2 separate regions of the Homo sapiens genome follow, and region 1 is linked to region 2. The links come from fine-mapping of genetic effects on gene expression. A gene starts in region 2. The other region holds a variant in brackets. All regions are shown on one strand. Distances are between the middles of the regions. Region 1 overlaps UBAP1 (ubiquitin associated protein 1). Region 2 holds the start of UBAP1 (ubiquitin associated protein 1).

Evidence for each region. PIP is the estimated chance that this variant, and not a neighbour inherited with it, causes the effect.
Region 1: its variant is the best candidate, but not a certain one, in a credible set for the expression of UBAP1 in whole blood (INTERVAL, PIP 0.73).

What each region holds. Positions count from the first base shown.
Region 1 is chr9:34,211,946-34,219,945 of GRCh38, reverse strand. All of the region lies in intron 1 of UBAP1 (ubiquitin associated protein 1), which reads right to left. Among named protein-coding and RNA genes, the nearest start is that of UBAP1, 37 kb to the right of the region's middle. The variant G/A (reference allele first, on the strand shown) is at 4,710.
Region 2 is chr9:34,171,982-34,182,958 of GRCh38, reverse strand. It overlaps UBAP1 (ubiquitin associated protein 1), which reads right to left and starts at 3,916. Exons shown (of 7, transcript NM_016525.5): 1 at 3,719-3,916. RefSeq lists enhancers at 1,994-2,951, 2,952-3,908, 3,674-4,103, 3,909-4,867 and a silencer at 6,554-6,848.

The sequences.
Region 1 (8,000 bases), 38 kb before region 2:
GAGGGGAGAAGGGAGGGGAGGGGAGGGGAGAGGGGGGAGGTGGGAAGGGAGAGGGGAGGGGAAGGGAGAGGGAAGGGGGAGGGGAAGGGAGAGGGAAGGGGGAGGGGAAGGGGAAGGGAGAGGGAAGGGGGAGGGGAGAGGGGAAAGTGGAGATGGGAAAGGGGAGAGGAGAAGGGAGGGGAGAGGGGAGGGGAGGGGAGGGGAAGGGGGAGGGGGAGGGGAGGGGAAGGGAGGGGAGAGGAGAGGAGAGGAAAGGAGGGGAGGGGAGGGAGACAAGACAAAACTCAATGTTCACAGGGGCATTTTTTTCAGATTAGGGATGCTGAACCAATAAGTATGAGGCAAAAAGTTAGAAAATCTGAAATCTGAAACACTTCTGGTGCCAAGGATTTAGATGAGGGATACTCAACTTGTACATAAAAAATATTTACAATGGTTGCCTCCAAGTAATAGGACTGGAAATAATTCATAAAATATTTGTATTTCTGAACGTTATATGGTAACATCTATTAATTTGGTAGTTTCTTTTAAAACTTTTCTTGAAAAGTTTCTGTTTTCAGCCAGGCGTGGTGACTTACACATGTAATCCCACATTTTGGAAGGCTGAGGCAGGTGGATTACTTGAGCCCAGGAGTTCGAAGACCAGCCTGGGCAACATGGTGAAACCTCATCTCTACAAAGATACAAAAAATTTGCCGGTGTGGTGTTGCATGCCTGTAGTCCCTGCTACTCGGGAGGCTGAGGTAGGAGAATCACCTGAGCCCAGGAAGTCAAGGCTGCAGTGACCAGTGATTGTGCCACTGCACTCCAGCCTAGGCGACACAGCAAGATCCTGTTACCAAAAAGAAAAAAAAAAAGTTTCCATTTTTCAGCATGGTGTAGAGATAGAGTGTATTCTGTTTGATATTGTAGTTCATGGAGAATTAAATTTATAAAGTGTATGTATTATCAATTTTCAAAGAACCAGCAAACCATACTGAAAATGATTTAACCTTTTTATATGTGCAGAAAACATTCACAGGCATCTTGCTGTCACCCAGGCTGGAGTGCAGTGGCACAATCTTTATTGCAACCTCTGCCTCCCAGGTTCAAACAATTCTCATGCCTCAGCTTCCCTGAGTAGCTGGGATTACAGGAGTGTGCCATCACACCCGGCTAATTATTTTGTATTTTTAGTAGAAACGGGGTTTTGCCATGTTGGATAGGCTGGTCTTAAACTCCTGGGCTCAAGTGATCCACTCACCCCAGCCTCCCAAAGTGCTGCAATTACAGGCATGAGCCACTGCACCCGGTCTCACAGTGAGACTTCTAAAACCCAGAAGCAAGACTCTTAGCAGCCTCAACCTTCCCACGTAGGCACATACCAGAAATCTGTTTTCCTAAATTGGGAAAGTAGCGGTATCTAAACTTCCAGCAATGAGTTGTGAATATGCTCACAGACATATGCAGAAAATTAGTGTTTCATTTCTATAACCACAATAAAAATTGTGTGATATCAGCTGTTTGAAGAAGCAACTGTTGTTGAGGTAAAGAACTTGAGAGAGGCTGAGTCTTTGATTTAATAAATAATTTTCCAAACAACACCTAGAATATGCTGACACCAGGAATGTTATAAAGAAGTTCCACCAAAATTTAAATGGATGTGCTTGGCTTTTTTTTTTTTTTTTTTTTTTTTTTTTTTTTTTTTTTTTTTTTGAGATGGAGTCTCGCTCTGTCACCAGGCTGGAGTGCAGTGGCATGATCTCGGCTCACTGCAACCACCGCCTCCCGGGTTCAAGCCATTCTCCTGCCTCAGCCTCCGGAGTAGCTGGGACTACAGGCCCCCGCCACCACGCCTGGCTAATTTTTTGTATTTTTAGTAGAGACGGGGTTTCACCATGTTGGCCAGGATAATCTGGATCTCTTGACCTTGTGATCCACCCGCCTCGGCCTCCCAAAGTGCTGGGATCACAGACGCGAGCTACTGCACCCAGCCAGATGCTTGGCTTTTTTAAAAGGCTCAACTGTTCACCATAAAAAAATGAATGAAATCCAGCATGAGAATCACTTGAGGCTGGGAGACGGAGGTTGCAGTGAGCCGAGATGGTGCCACTGCACTCCAGCCTGGGCAACTCAGCAAGACTGTCTGTCTCAAAAAAAAAAAAAAAAAAAAAAAAAAAAAAGAACGAAATCCTGTCATTTATGACAATGTGAATGAATCTGCAGGACTTTGTGTTAACTGAAACAAGCCAGACACAGAAAGACAAATTTTGTATGATCTTACTCATACAGAATATAAAAAAGTTTATCTCATAAAGGCAGAGGCTTTTTTTTTTGTTACTCAGGTAACAAACCGCACATGTGCCCCCGAATCAAAATAAAAGTTGAAAAAACAAAAATTAAAAAAATTAAAAAAACCACCACCGCCACCAGCCAGGCACGGTGGCTCACGACTGTAATCTTAGAACTTTGAGAAGCCGAAGAAGGCAGATCACCTGAGGTCAGGAATTCGAGACCAGCCTGGCCAACATGGTGAAACCCAGTATCTACAAAAATACAAAAATTAGCCGGGCATGGTGGCACATGCCTGTAGTCTCAACTACTTGGGAGGCTGAGGCAGAAGAATCACTTGAACCCAGGAGGCAGAGGCTGCAGTGAGCTGAGATCATGCCACTGCACTCCAGCTTGGGCAACAGAGATTCTGTCTCAAAACAGTAACAACAATCACCTATGCTATCTGCCTAGGGCCATTCACAGGATGGTAAATCAGATGACTCCATTCTCTGACTGACCAAGGCTGATGGCATCCTCTCAAAGAACTTCTGACTGTGGAGAATCACAGATGTGGAATATTTATCATAAATAAATAGCAAACACCCTTCCCAAAAGAGTAGAGAGTATAATAGTAATTACCAGAGGCCGGAGAGGTGGGGAGGGTAGTAAAGGGAAGGGCAGGGAGTGGGATGGGGAGAAGTTGATGAATGATTAAAGTTACCATCACATAGGAAGAATAAGTTCTGGTATTCTATTGTACAGTAAGGTGACTACAGTTAACAATAATATATTCTATATTTCAAAATTAACTAGAGCTCAGGAGTTTGAGACCACCCTGGGTAATATGGCCAAACCCCATCTCTACTAAACATACAAACATTAGCCGAGCATGGTGGTACGCACCTGTAGTCCCAGCTACTTGGGAGGCTGAGGTGGGAGGATGGCTTGAGCCCAGGAGGCAAAGGTTGCCGTGAGCCATGATTAAGCCACTGCACTCCAGCTTGGGCAAGAGAGCCAGTCTCAAAAAAAAAAAAAAAAAAAAAAAAAAAATTAGCATGGTGTGGTGGTGCATGCCTGTAGTCCCAGCTAATCAGGTTCACTTGAGTCCAGGTGGTAAAAGGCTGCAGTGAGCTATGATCGCACCACTGCACTGCAGCCTGGGCAACAGAGTGAGACCCCAGCTCTAAAAAAAATTTAAAATAAAAAAAAGAAGACATAAAAGTTCACAAATATTGTGTGATGCCATTCATATGAGGTGTCCAGAAAGGGAAAATCCAAAGAGACTGAAAGCAGACTGGCGGTTGCCTGGGTCTGGGAAAGAGAAACTGTGTAGTTGGTAAGGGTCTCCTTTGGAGTGAAGGAAAGGTTTCAGAACCAGATATGGTGATTACACAACACTATGAGAGTACTAAATGCCACTAAATTGATCATTTTAACATGGTTAATTTCATGCTATGTGAATTTCACCTCAGTAAGTTTTTTTTTAAATTAAATTACAAAAAAAAAAATGGCAGAAAAAAATTGGCAGCAGAGAGGTGCTCCAGAGGAGAGGGCCAGAAAGACGCGTGTCAATAACTTCCAAGTTTGAAAATCAGAGAGGCAATGAGGCAGTGAACAACTAGATAGAAGACCACAAGGAATAGTAAATGAAAAATAAAATACAGTTCTCTTTATTAGTAAATAATGTAAAATTTTTTAAATCATGCCTCAATAGAGCTGATAAAATATTTTTTTCCCATATTATATATTATTTTCCACAGTCCTTAAGAATATGAGAAATCTATATTTGGGCACATAAAGATTTTTCTAAGGTCCACTATGCAGCAAAACTTCAGTCTCTCAAAGCTCAAAGGCATTTTAATACCTATTTAGGGTCAGTTTTCTTCCCCCAGAACATCTTTTATATATATGTACATACATGTATGTGTGTGTGTGTGTGTACATATATATATGTACACACGTTTCACCAATAACTTCCTATACTTTTTTAAACCCTTTTTTTATTATTTATTTTTCCATAAGTTATTGGGGTACAGGTGGTATTCAGTTACATAAGTTCCTTAGTGGTGATTTGTGAGATTTCGGTGCACCCATCACCCGAGCAGTATACGCTGCACCCTATTTGTGGTCTTTTATCCCTCACCCCCCTCCAACCCTTCCCCCCAGGTCACCAAAGTCCACTGTATCATTCTTATGCCTTTGCGTCCTCATAGCTTAGCTTTCACCTATCAGTGAGAACATTAGATGTTTGGTTTTCCATTCCTGAGTTACTTTACTTAGAACAGTCTCCAATCTCATCCAAGTCACTGCAAATGCTAATTCATTCCTTTTTACAGCTGAGCAGTATTCCATCATATATATATATATATGACACATATATACATACTTATATACATATATATACACACACACACACTATCATATATACATATATACACACAGCAGTTTATCCATTC[G/A]TTGATAGGCATTTGGGTTGCTTCCATGATTTTACACTTGTGAATTGTGCTGCTATAAACATACATGTGCAAGCATCTTTTTCAAATGACTTCTTTTCCTCTGGGTAGATATCCAGTAGTGGGACTGCTGGATCAAATGGTAGTTCTACTCTTAGTTCTTTAAGGAATCTCCACACTGTTTTCCAGAGTGGCTGTACTAGTTTACATTCCCACAGCAGTGTAAATGTGTTGCCTGATCACTGCATCCACGCCAACATCTACTGTTTTTTTATTTTTTTATTATGGCCATTCTTGCAGGAGTAAGGTGGTATCACATTGTGGTTTTGATGTGCACTTCCCTGATCATTAGTGATGTTGGGCATTTTTCATGTTTGTTGGCCATCTGTATATCCTCTTTTGAGAACTGTCTATTCATGTCCTTAGCCCACTTTTTGATGGGATTGTTTTTTTCTTACTGAGTTGGTTGTAGATTCTGGATATCAGTCCTTTGTCAGATGTATACATTATGAAGATTTTCTCCCACTCTGTGGGTTGTCTGTTTACTCTGCTGACTATTCCTTTTACTGTGCAAAAGCTCTTTAGCTTAATTGGGTCCCAGCTATTTATCTTTGTTTTTATTGCATTTGCTTTTGGGTTCTTGGTCATGAAATCCTCGCCTAAGCCAATGTCTAGAAGGGTTTTTCCAATGATACCTTCTAGAATTTTTTATAGCTTCAGGTCGTTAAGTCCTTAATCTATCTTGTATAGGATCCAGTTTCATTGTCCTACATATGGCCAGCCAATTATCCCAGTGCTATTGTTAAAAAGGGTATCCTTTCCCCACTTTATGTTTTTGTTTGCTTTGTCGAAGATCAATTGGCTGTAAGTATTTGGGTTTATTTCTGGGTTCTCTATTCTGTTCCATTGGTCTGTGTGCCTATTTTTATACCAGTACCGTGCTGTTTTGGTGACTATGGCCTTATAGTATAGTTTGAAATCAGGTAGTGTGATGCCTCCAGATTTGTTCTCTTTGCTTAGTCTTGCTTTGGCTATGCAGGTTCTTTTTTTGTTCCATATGAATTTTAGAAATGTTGTTTCTAATTCTGTGAAGAATGATGGTGGTATTTTGATGGGGATTACATTGAATTTGTAGATTGCTTTTGGCAGTATGGTCATTTTCACAATATTGATTCTACCCATCCATGAGCATGGGATGTGCTTCCATTTGTTTGTGCCATCTATGATTTCTTTCAGCAGTGTTTTGTAGTTTTCCTTGTAGAGGTCTTTTGACTCCTTAGTTAGGTATATTCCTAAGTATTTTTTTTTTTTGCAGCTGTTGTAAAAGGGGTTGAGTTTTTTATTTGATTCTCTGCTTGGTCACTGTTGGTGTATAGAAGAGCTTCTGATTTGTGTACATTAATCTTGTATCCAGAAACTTTGCTGAATTCTTTTATCAGTTCTAGGAGCTTTCTGGAGGAGGCTTTAGGGTTTTCAAGGTAAACGATCATATTGTCAGCAAACAGTGACAGTTTGACTTCCTCTTTACCAGTTTGGATGCCCTTTCTTTCTTTCCCTTGTCTGAATGTTCTGGCTAGGACTTCCAGTACTATGTTGAAGAGGAGTGGTGAGAACAGGCATCCTTGTCTTGTTCTAGTTCTCACAGGTAATGCTTTCCACTTTTCCCCATTCAGTATTAGGTTGGCTGTAGGTGTGTCATAGATGGTTGGGTTTTTTTGTTTTTGTTTTTGAGACAGAGTCTCGCTCTGTCGCCCATGCTGGAGTGCAATGGTGCGATCTCGGCTCACTGCAACTTCCACCTCCTGGGTTCAAGCGATTCTCCTGTCTCAGTCTCCTGAGTAGCTGGGATTGCAAGCGCCTGCCACCATGCCGAGCTAATTTTTGTATTTTTAGATGAGACGGGGTTTCACCATGTTGGCCAGGCTGGTCTCAAACTCCTGACCTCAGGTAATCCACCTGCCTCGGCCTCCCAAAGTGCTGGGATTACAGGTGTGATGTGAGCCACTGCACCTGGCCCAGAGATGGCTTTCATTACATTGAGGTATGTCCCTCGTATGCTGATTTTGCTGAGAGTTCTAATCATAAAGGGATGCTGGATTTTGTCAAATGCTTTTTCTGCATCTATTGAGATGATCATGTGACTTTTGTTTTTAATTCTGTTTATGTGGTGTATCACATTTATTGACTTAAATATGTTAAACCATCCCTGCATCCCTGGTATGAAACCCACTTGATCATGGTGGATTATCTTTTTGATATGTTGCTAGATTTGGTTAGCTAGTATTTTGTTAAGGATTTTAGCATCTATGTTCATCAAGGATATTAGTCTGTAGTTTTCTTTTTTGGTTATGTCCTTTCCTGGTTTTGGTAGGGTGATGCTGGCTTTATACAATGAATTAGGCATGGTTCCTTCTTTATCTTGTGGAATAGTGTCAGAAGGATTGGTACCAACTCTTCTTTGAATGTCTGGTAGAATTCTGCTGTGAAGCCATCTGGTCCTGGACTTTTTTGTTGGTAATTTTTAAATTACCATTTCAATCTTGCTGCTTGTTATTGGTCTGTTCAGGGTATCCAATTCCTCCTGATTTAAGCTAGGAGGGTTGTATTTTCCCTAAACCCATTTATTTTACAATACTCTCCTATTATCTAAATACTCAATTATGGAAAAATGATTAAATAATGGAAAATCCAGAAGATAACGTTGTGATGGCACTAAGAGTGTCTACTAAAGGCACATAACATAGGAGTAGACATGGAACTAAAAAAATTATTTTATTTTTAAAAAGCATATAATAAATAGAAAATAACTATAAGTGTGTGTGTGTGTGTGTGTGTGTGTGTGTGTGTTTTAATAGAAATGAGGTCTCACTATGTTAACCAGGCTGGTTTTGAACTTCTGAACTCAAGCTATCCTCCTGCCTTGGCCTCCCAAAGTGCTAGGATTACAGGTATAAGCCACCATTCCTGGCCAATAATTATAAATTTTAAAATGTTTTAATAAATTAAATTAAATTGCCTTATGTAAAAAATGTGCACAAAACAAGACTGAAAGAAATGTTTGCCACTAATGTAAAGCTATAATTAATCACAGGGAAAAAAATTTATAATCAATCATAAATTTCCACTAAAATAAGTATATGCTTCTATTAAAGGGAAAGTATCAATCAAAAATAACAATAAAACATATTCTTTTTCTTTTTTAGCTGGTGGTATGGATTGGAACACACATTCATAATTCAAGAACTTTTACACTAATAAAACTTAGAAATCCCAAAACCAACAACTTATCAGTGA
Region 2 (10,977 bases):
AAACTACAAAAAATTAGCCAGGAGATCGAGACCATCCTGGATAACACGGTGAAACCCCATCTCTACTAAAACTACAAAAAATTAGCCAGGCGTGGTGGTGGGCACCTGTAGTCCCAGCTATTCAGGAGGCTGAGGCAGGAGAATGGCGTGAACCCAGGAGGCGGAGCTTGCAGTGAGCAGAGATCGAGCCACTGTACCCCAGCCTGGGCGACTGAGTGAAAAGAAAGAAAGGAGAGAGAGAAAGAGAGAGAAAGAAAAGAAAAGAAAGAGAGAGAGAAAGAAAGAAAGAAAGAAAGAAAGAAAGAAAGAAAGAAAGAAAGAAAGAAAGAAAGAAAGAAAGAAGGAAAGAAAGAAAAAGAAAAAAGAACACGAAAAGCTTGTAATATTGGCATTTACACTCAAGGCTAATGATATTTCAACTATAATGCTGAAAATAATAAGAATTTTAGTCACTGAATTAAACGTCAGGGATCCATCTGGGCGCCATGGCTCACGTCTGTAATCCCTGCACTTTGGGAGGCCGAGGCGGGTAGGTCATTTGAGGTCAGGAGTTCAAGACCAGCCTGGCCAACGTTGTGAAACCCCGTCGCTACTAAAACTATAAAAATTAGCCGGGTGTGGTGGTGGGTGCCTGTAATCCCAGCTACTTGGGAGGCTGAGGCAGGAGAATCACTTGAACCTGGGAAATGGAGGTTGCAGTGAGCTGAGATCACGCCACAGCACTCCAGCCTGGGCAACAGTGCGAGACTCAGTCTCAATAAATAAATAAATAAATAAATAAATAAATAAATAAATAAACGTCAGGGATCCTTAAATACCATAGTTAAAAGATACACCAAATAATGTGACATTCACCAGTCAAAAATACGTGCACTAGCTGCTCATGCCTCCCAGCAGTTTGGGAGGCTGTGGTGGGAGGATCACTTGAGCTCAGGAGTTCAAAATCAGACTGGGCAACATAAGAGACCCCTTCTCTACAAAAAAAAAAATTTTAATTAAAAAATGCACTAACAATCATTGATGAGACTTGTCTACAGATCTATTATTATCTTTTCAGAATACTCTGTCTTCAAAATCAAAATGAAAAAATATTTCAGAAGAATACACAGAAGAAATGCCATGATTAGGAAATCAGTCTTAAATACTAAACGAAAGAAACTGAAGAAGTTTTCATATTTACAGAGTTTAATTTTTTTCCTTTGCCTTCATTAAAAAAAAAAAAAAAAAGGCCTGGCACGGTGGCTCACGCCTGTAATCCCAGCACTTTGGGAGGCCAAGGCGGGCGGATCACGAGGTCAGGAGATCGAGACCATCCTGGCTAACCCAGTGAAACCCCGTCTCTACTAAAAATACAAAAAATTAGCCGGGCGTGGTGGCGGGAGCCCGTAGTCCCAGCTACTCAGGAGGCTGAGGCAGGAGAATGGCGTGAACGCGGGAGGCAGAGCTTGCAGAGAGCCGAGATCGCGCCACTGCACTCCAGCCTGGGCGACAGAGGGAGACTCCGTCTCAAAAAATAAAATAAAATACAAATAAAAATAAAAAAGGCCGGGCGCGGTGGCTCACGCCTGTAATCCCAGCACTCTGGGAGGCCAAGACGGGTGGATCACGAGGTCAGCAGATGGACACCATCCTGGCTAACACGGTGAAACCCCGTCTCTACTAAAAAAATATTTTAAAAAATTAGCCAGGTGTGTGGCAGGCGCCTGTAATCGCAGCTACTGAGGAGGCTGAGGCAGGAGAATGGCAAGCCCGGGAGGCGGAGCTTGCAGTGAGCTGAGATTGCGCCACTGCACTCCAGCCTGGGCACAGAGCGAAACTCTGTCTCAAAAAAAAAAAAAAAAAGAAAACAGGCCGGGTGCGGTGGCTCACGCCTGTAATCCCAGCACTTTCGGAGACCAAGGCCGGAGGATTATTTGAGGTCAGAAGTTCGAGACCAGCCTGACCAACATGGTGAAACCCCGTCTCTACTAAAATACAAAAATTAGCCAGCCGTAGTGGTGGGTGTCTATAATCTCAGCTACTCGGGAGGCTGAGGCAGGACAGTCACTTGAACCCAGGAGGCGGAGGTTGCAGCAAGCCAAGATCGCGCCACTGCACTCCAGCCTGGGCAACAGACCGAGACTCCCTCTGGAAAAAAATAAAAAGAAACAAAAAAAAAAAAAAGTTTTTTTTCCAATGAGGTTCTAGCAGGTTAGTAAAGTTATCTGCTGTGCAATGACAGCGATGGTCACTCACTAAAGAAACATTAAGTTTAGCATTTCTGTAATTATAATGACTCTTATTATTGCAACACACAGTAGCTATTTAATAAACACCATGAATTAATAGAACTAGAAACAAAAATTTAATAAAATTTCACTTATAGTAAGTTAATGCGGACAATGTAATTCTTTTAAGACTTGACACATTTCACATTCTTTGCCATAATACGTAAACTTTTTTTTTTTTTTTGAGTCGGAGTCTCGCTCTGTTGCCCAGGCTGGAGTGCAATGCAGCGATCTAGGCTCACTGCTACCTCCGCCTCCCAGGTTCAAGCCATTCTCCTGCCTCGGCCACCCGAGTAGCTGGGATTACAGGCGCCTGCCACCACGCCCGGCTGGCTTTTTAGTAGAGAAAGGGTTTCAACATGTTGGTCAGGCTGGTCTTGAACTCTTGACCTCGTGATCCGCCCGCCTCGGCCTCCCAAAGTGCTGGGATTTCAGACGTGAGCCACAGCGCCCGGCCAATACGGAAACTTTTAGTTTAGGTTGGGACATTAACTAGAAAGAACTATATATCACTAAAGACTAAGTATCTTGTTTTTCCCACCATCAAATCTGACAAAATTAAAAAGGAAAACATCCATCATATCTATTCAAATTCTCAAATGCTAATAACTGAAGAGACAAAGCACTAACGAGTAAAGTTAGAACAGAATATACGTAATACTTAACTAAATTACCAAATCTGGTTTCGCAACACTGCATGGTGACTAAAAGTAACAATTTTTTTTTCAGTTTAACATAAAACGTATTTTTATGCCCAACCATACTTTTAAGACGCTAGTCTGGAAACAATTACATTTGGCAACAAAGGTCAAAGATCACTGATATAGCTCAAATAAATGAACCTGACGTTCCACAAGAAAGACTGGGGCGGTTCCTGAGGCCCAGGTGGACTGTATAGGTAAGCCTCCACCCAAGAAACAAAAAAGGCGGATAAACATACCTGGAGAAGACCAGACAAGGCCAAAGATATCCCCAAAGATCACTCACCTCTGGTCTAGTCTCCACCTTTTCTCCCCAATCTCATTGCCTCAGGGAGAACTAAATCTACACCGCACGTCCCCAGCTCACCCTCAACTCCCCACCACTCACCTTCTTTACTAAAATCTGGGTCCCCCTCCCTGACATCCTCTAGTTCCCACCGAGTTCTCAGTCCAGCCCGATAGATGTCTACTATGCCTGTCTTCCAGTAGGGTATTAGTCTCCTTAATCCGAACTCATTTTTCCGCATCCCACTTCCCCTCCGCCCCTTCAACTCCGGTCCCCTCACTCCGACCCTTCTCCCAGAATCCTCCCCGAATCGCGGATCTCCGGCCACTTTTCCCTCCCACCTCCTAGCTCCGGCGCCCTTCACCTCGCTCGGCCCCCCATCCCGTTTCCCAGTCTCCCAGTACCAGCCCCCCTCCCCCAACTCCGCCCCTCTTCCCCCTCCCCCAGAGGGAGGCCCCCCTCACCTGAATGCCGCTGCTGCCGCCGTCTCAGAAGCCGAAAGGTGCTGGCACCGGCCGGCCTCCCAGGCTCGGTCCCCGCTGAGCTCCCGACAGCCCCTAGGGAGAGCGAACGCCACCACCTCCAACTCTGCCCGCTCCGGGCCAGGCCGTCACCGTAGCCACCGCCAGTGCCGCAGCCGCCATGTTGAAGTCCTACTTCCCTCCTCCTTCCCCTCACCGCCCCACTCATTTGGGCGTCTGACGTCATGGCGCCGCGCTCCACACGCCCGGACCAATGGGAGGAGCCGACGGTGACATAACTAATCTCTCTTCTAGCGAGGAGCTACTCCGGCAACATGGAGCATTGCAATTGGAATGAGTAAACCCTGCTGACCTAAGGGGGAAGGAGGAAAGGAGGGGGTCACTAAGAGTGTAAGACTTGGGTTTGGCGAGGCGGCCAAAGCGGGAAACCCAAGAGCCTTGAATCGCGAAGGTATGCCCAAAGAGTTAGCAGCGAGTCCTATTTGGGAATTAAGACATCTAGCTTCTGTTCAGGGTCAGCGACCTGGTACAACTCATACCCTTTCTGGACCTCACTTTTCCCATGTATAGAGGACTAAGTTGAAAGGTGACTTCTAGGCCGGGCGCAGTGGCTCACGCCTGTAACTCCAGCACTTTGAGAGGCCGAGGCAGGAGGGTCGCTTGAGCCCGGGAGGTCGAGGCTGCGGTAGCCGTGATCGCGCCACTGCACTCCAGGTGGGCAACGGAACGCGACTCTGTATCAAAAGAAAAAAAAACAAAGGTGACCTCTAAGTCTTCCTTCAATTCTGACATTCTATGGGTTTAAACCAGGTAATCCTATCCCAAGCCTTCACTGCCTTCTGTGGGGGTTTTTGTTGTTGTTGTTGTTTCTGTTTGGGGTGTTTTTTGTTTTTTTGAGACAGGGTCTCGCTCTGTCGCCTAGGCTGGAGTGCAGTGGCGCGATGTTGGCGCACTGCAACCCTGCAACCTCCACCTGTCGGGCTCAAGTGATCCTCCCACCTCAGCCTTCTGAGTAGCTTGGACTATAGCCACATGCCAACACGCCCGGATAATTTTTATTATTTTATATATATATATGGAGAGACGGGGTCTCACCATGTTGCCCAGGCTGGTGGTAAACTTCTGGGCTCAAGCCTCAGTCTCCCAAATTGCTGGGATTGTAGGCGTGAGCCATGGCGCTGGCCTTCTGTGTCTTTCTATGTCTGCTGGAATTAGGAGACAGAGAATTATTAATTGAATAAGATGACTCTTGAGCCCAGGAGTTCAAGACCAATTTAAGCAACATGAGACCCCCGTCTCTACAAAAAGTTTGGTAAAAATTAGGTGAGCCTGGGCAACATAGTGAGACCTTGTCTCTACAAAAACTCAAATTATCTGGGCGTGGTGGCATGTGCCTGTGGTCCTAACTATTCAGGAGGCTGAGATAGGAGGATCACTTGAGCCTGAGAGGTCGAGGCTACAGTGAGCCAGGATTGTGCTGGTGTACTCCAAACATGGGTGACAGAGCAAGATCTTGTCGCAATAAAATAAAATAAAATAAAATGACTAGGCACGATGGCTAACGCCTGTAATCCCAGCACTTTGGGAGGCCAAGATGGTCAGATCTCTTGAGCTCAGGAGTTTGAGACCAGCCTGGGCAACGTGGAGAATCTTCATCTCTAACAACAACAAAAAACAGTTGGGCATGGTGGTACACGACTGTAGTCCCAGCTATTGGGTTCTGCAAATGAGACCCTGTCTAAAAATAAAATAAAATTGTAAAAAATTAGCCAGACATGGTTGTACACATCTGTGGTCCCAGCTAGTCAGGAGGCTGAGGTGAGAAAATGGCCTCAGCCTGGGAGGTTAAGGCTGCTGTGAGCAATGATCATGCCATTGCACTCTAGCCTGGGCAACAGAGCAAGACTCTGTCTCAAAAAAAAAAAAAAAAAAAAAACAAGGTCGGGTGTGGTGGCTCACGCCTGTAATCCCAGAACTCTGGGAGGCTGAGGCAGGCAGATCATCTGAGGTCAGGAGTTTAAGACCAGCCTACCCAACATGGTGAAACCCCATCTCTACTAAAAATACAAAATAAAAATTAGCTAGGTGGGCGCCTGTAATCCCAGCTATGTGGGAGGCTGAGGCATGAGAATCGCTTGAACCCAAGAGGAGGAGGTTACAGTGAGCGAGATCAAGCCACTGCACTCCAGCCTGGGTGACAAAGCCAGACCCTGTCTCAAAAAAAAAAAAAAAAAAAAAAGTCTGGGCGCAGTGGCTCATGCCTATAATCCCAGGACTTTGGGAGGCCAAGGCAGGTGGATAACCTGAGGTGAGGAGTTCGAGAGCAGCCTGGCCAACATGGTGAAACCCCATCTCTACTAAAAATTCAAAAATTAGCTGGGCGTGATGGTGGCAGCTGTAATCCTAGCTATTCAAGAGGCTGAGGCAGAAGAATCACTTGAACCTGGGAGGTGGAGGTTGCAGTGAGGTGAGGTTGCGCCACGTCACTCCAGCCTAGGTGACAGAGCAACACTCTGTCTCAGAAAAAAAAAAAAGGCCAGGCACAGTGGCTCATGCCTGTAATCCCAGCACTTTGGGAGGCCGAGGCGGGCAGATCACATGAGGTCAGGAGTTCAAGACCAGCCTGACCAGCATGGAGAAACCCCGTCTCTACTAAAAATACAAAAAAAATTAGCTAGGTGTGGTGGCAAATGCCTGTAATCCCAGCTACTTGGGAGGCTGAGGCAGGAGAATTGCTTGAGCCCAGGAGGCAGAGATTGCGGTTAGCTGAGATCACACCATTGCACTCCAGCCTGGGCAACGAGAGCAAAACTCCATTCAAAAAAAAAAAAAAAAAAAAAAGAAATGGAAAAGAAGTGGAGGCATTTACCTAGAAAAACAAATACCTCTTAACCTTCCTAGGAGTGATTCATACTTGTCAGTTTCTAGGTGTGAATCCCAGTGTTGACTCACCTGGGGCCAGAAGAGGCTGAATAGGATGCCAGTCCTCTGTTTCCCCTACCCTGTATCTTTCCCTCTCAGTGCACGTAGACAGTGGCCAGCATACCTGCTGGCCTGCCAACAGCAATAGAGAAAAAAGGGGCACCAACCTGCACCCTCCCTCTTTCTGTCTTCTTTCTCCCTCCCTTTATACACCAGGCATTTACAATGTCTAAGAACAGAGACAGAAAAGACAGACAACCACCTCTACAATATTTCATTCATTTAGCCATCCAGTACTAATTAAGTCCTACCATGTGCCAGGCACCACAAGTCTGCAAAGATGCTCTCAAGGCAGCCCAGTGAGGGAAGCAGATAAGTGTCCAGATAATGATGGCACCTGACAGAAAATAAACTGAGTCCGGCCGGGCGTGGTGGATCACACCTGTAATCCCAGCACTTTGGGAGGCTGAGGCAGGCGTATCATGAGGTCAGGAGATCGAGACCATCCTGGCTAACACGGTGAAACCCGTTTCTACTAAAAATACAAAAAGTTAGCCAGGTGTGGTAGCACACACCTGTAGTCCCAGCTACTTGGGAGGCTGAGGCAGGAGAATCGCTTGAACCCGGGAGGCGGAGGTTGCAGTGAGCAGAGATCACGCCACTGCACTCCAGCCTGGGTGACAGAGCAACACTCTGTCTCAAAAAAAAAAAATAAAGAAAGAAAATAAACTGAGTCCTTTAAGTAGCACAATCCATGCCTGAGGAGTAGAGAGGAGAGGGAATTCAGGTACACTTGAGAAATTCGGAGATTTCATGGCAAATTGAAGCATTTAAGTTAGGCCTTAAAGGCCAGATAGAATGAAGGGTGCCTAAAGTAGTCTGGGCAAAGGCATGGATGCAAGAAATTTCCAGGAATGTTCAGGATCAGTAAGTAGAGCAAAGGGTATATGTAGAGGAGCAGAAGGTGGTAAGTTTGGAGAAACCAGGAAGGAAGAGGCTTGGCTTGGGTTTAACCGTTCTAAGTCTGTAAGAAAAAGTCACTGGCATCCTTGGCAAAGACATCTTTTCTCCTGGGAAAATCAAGGGAAAAGTTAGGATGAATCCTTAGAACCTTGAAGATCAGATTGAAACCTTTTGCCCTTCCCCAGAAACTCATAGTTACAACGAAGGACTCAGATATCTGGGTAACCTCTGAGGCTTCTCTCAATTCTAAGAACGATGTGATGACCATCATATAAAGATGCAATTATCCTGATGACCATGATATAGATAATTTTCCATTCCACCAGATGAATACACAAACACAAAAAGGTACAATAAAATATTAAAAGAGAATATAGAAGAATATTTTCTGAGTTATGGGATGGAAAGAACTTGTCTAATCATAACACCAAATGCAGAAGCCATGAAGGAAATAGTTGACAGATTTGATGATGGCAAAAGACCCCAAACACAAAGTGAAAAGATAAACTGGAAGAAAATATTTGTAACCTATATAACAGAAAAAGTTAGTTTTCCCAGTATACAAATAATTTTACAAATCAGTGTGAAAAATGGAATGATTCAATTAAAAAAAAGTGTGTATAGTTTGCAAGAGGCAATTAGCCAAAGAAGAAATACAAATAGCTAGTGAACGTATGAGAAAATGGTCAATATCACTGATAATTTTTTTTTTTTTTTGAGACAGAGTCTCACTTTGTCGCCCAGGCTGGAGTGCAAAGGCACAATCTCGGCTCACTACAACCTCTGCCTCCTGGGTTCAAGCGATTCTCCTGCCTCAGCCTCCTGAATAGCTGGGATTACAGGCATGCACCACCACATTCGGCTAGTTTTTGTATTTTTAGTAGAGATGGGGTTTCACCATGTTGTTCAGGCTGGTCTCAAACTCCCGACCTCATGATCCTCCCCACCTCGGCCTCCTAAAGTGCTGGGATTACAGGCGTGAGCCACCGCACCGGGCTGATAATGTTTAAAAATGAAACAAGGCTCTAATTTTTACCTAACAAATTGGCAAAAGCTGAAAAGATCAAGTATATCCAATGCTGGGTCTGATGCAGTGGCTCATGCCTATAATCTCAGCACTTTGGGAGGCTGAGGCGGGAGTGAGGCCAGGAGTTTGAGTCCATCCTGGGCAACAGGCCTTGTTCTGTCACCCAGGCTGGAGTGCAGTGGTGCAATCATAGATCACTGCAGCTTCGAACTTCTGGACTTAAGGGATCGTCCCGCCTCAGCCTCCCGGATAGCTGGGACTGGCAGGTACATGCCACCATACCTGGCTAATTTTTATTTTATTTTATTTTATTTAAGTTTTGTTTGTTTGTGTTGTTTTCTTTTGAAATGTAGTCTCGCTCTGTCATCCAGGCTGGAGTGCAGTGACACAATCTCGGCTCACTGCAACCTCTGCCTCCCGGGTTCAAATGATTCCCCTGCCTCAGGCTTCCAAGTAGCTGGGATTACAGGCATGTGCCACCATGCACCGCTTTTTTTTTATATTTTTGGTAGAGATGGGATTTCTCCATGTTGGCTAGGCTGGTCTTGAACTCCTGGCCTCAAGTGATCCACCTCCCACCCCTCCTGAAGTGCTGAGATTATAGGTATGAGCCAGCGCACCCAGCTTGTGGTTTTTTTTTTTTTTTTTGAGACAGGGTTTCAGTCTTCTGTCACCCAGGCTGGAGTGCAGTGGCGTGATCTCAGCTCACTGCAACCTCTGCCTCCCAGGCTCAAGAGATCCTCCCACCTCCATCTCCAGAGTAGCTGGGACCACAAGCACATACCACCATGCCTGACCAATTTTGTGTATTTTTGGTAGAGACAGGGTTTCACCATGTTGCCCAGGCTGGTCTCAAACTCCTGAGCTCAAGCAATCTGCCAGCCTCGGCTTACCAAAGTGCTAAGACTATGGGCATGAGCCATGGCACCCAGCCATTTTTTTTTCTTTTTTGTAGAGTCAGGATCTCGCTATATTGACCAGGCTGGTCTCAAACTCTTGGCCCCAAGTGATCCTGCTGCCGTGGCCTCCCAAAGTGCTGGAATTCCATGCACGAGCTACCATGCTCAGCCCCCCATCTTAATTGATTAAAAAAAATTATTTAATAAAAAAGTATATCCAGCCGGGCATGGTGGCTCACACCTGTAATCCCAGCACTTTGGGAGGCCAAGGCGGGTGGACCACCTGAGGTTGGGAGTTCGAGATCAGCCTGGCCAACATGGCAAAATCCTGTGTCTACTAAAAATACAAAAATTAGCCGGCGTAGTGGTGTGCACCTGTAATCCCAGCATTTGGGAGGCTGAGGCAGGAGAATCGCTTGAACCCAGGAGGCAGAGGTTGCAGTGAGCCAAGATAGCACCACTGCACTCCAGCCTGGGCGACAGAGCAAGACTTTGTCTCAAAAAAATAAATAAATAAAGTGTATCCAATGGTGCATAGATGGATAAACTTTTTTTTTTTTTTTTTTAAAGAAACAGTCTCTCTATGGTGCACAGGCTGGTCTCAAGCTCCTGGTCTCAAGCAATCCTCCCACCTTGACCTCCCAAAGTGCTGGGATTAGGCATGAGCCACCGTGTCTAGCAAAATAAGCATTCTCATACACTGCTGACAACAGTATAAATTGGTAGAATCTTTTCGTGGAGCAATTTGGCAGTAACTATCGCAGTTACAGCAGTATATTGTGGAGTAAAAAGCAAGTTGCAGAATAATGCATATGGTATTTATTTTTGCAAAAAAAAAATGTGTAGAGATAATCTATATATGTGTGTATGTATATATATGTGTATATATGTGTGTATATATATGTGTGTGTGTATATGTGTATATATATGTGTGTGTATATATAAGCATGGATGAAAAACTGAAAGGACACACACTAAATTATTATTTGTGGCTGTGGAGGAAATAGGATTTGGCTGGAGTGGGGCGGGCAGCAGAACTTGGGACTAAAGAAGGAGGGGCGGCCAGGCGCAGTGGCTCACGCCTGTAATTCCAGCACTTTGGGAGGCTGACTTTGGGAGGCCGACTTTGGGAGGCCAAGGTGGGCAGATCACTTGAGGTCAGGAGTTCGAGACCAGCTTGGCCAAAACCCGTCTCTACCAAAAATACAAAAAAAAAAAAAATTAGCCAGGCCTGGTGGCGCGCACCTCTAATCCCAGCTACTCAGGAGGCTGAGACAGGAGAAAAGCTTGAACCCGGGAGATGAAAGTTGCAGTAAGCTGAGATCATGCTGCTGCACTCCAGCCTGGGCGACAGAGCGACACTCTGTCTCAAAAAAAAAAAAAAAAAAAAAAAGGAGAAGAAGAAGGGGAAGTGGAAACCACACAGAAGC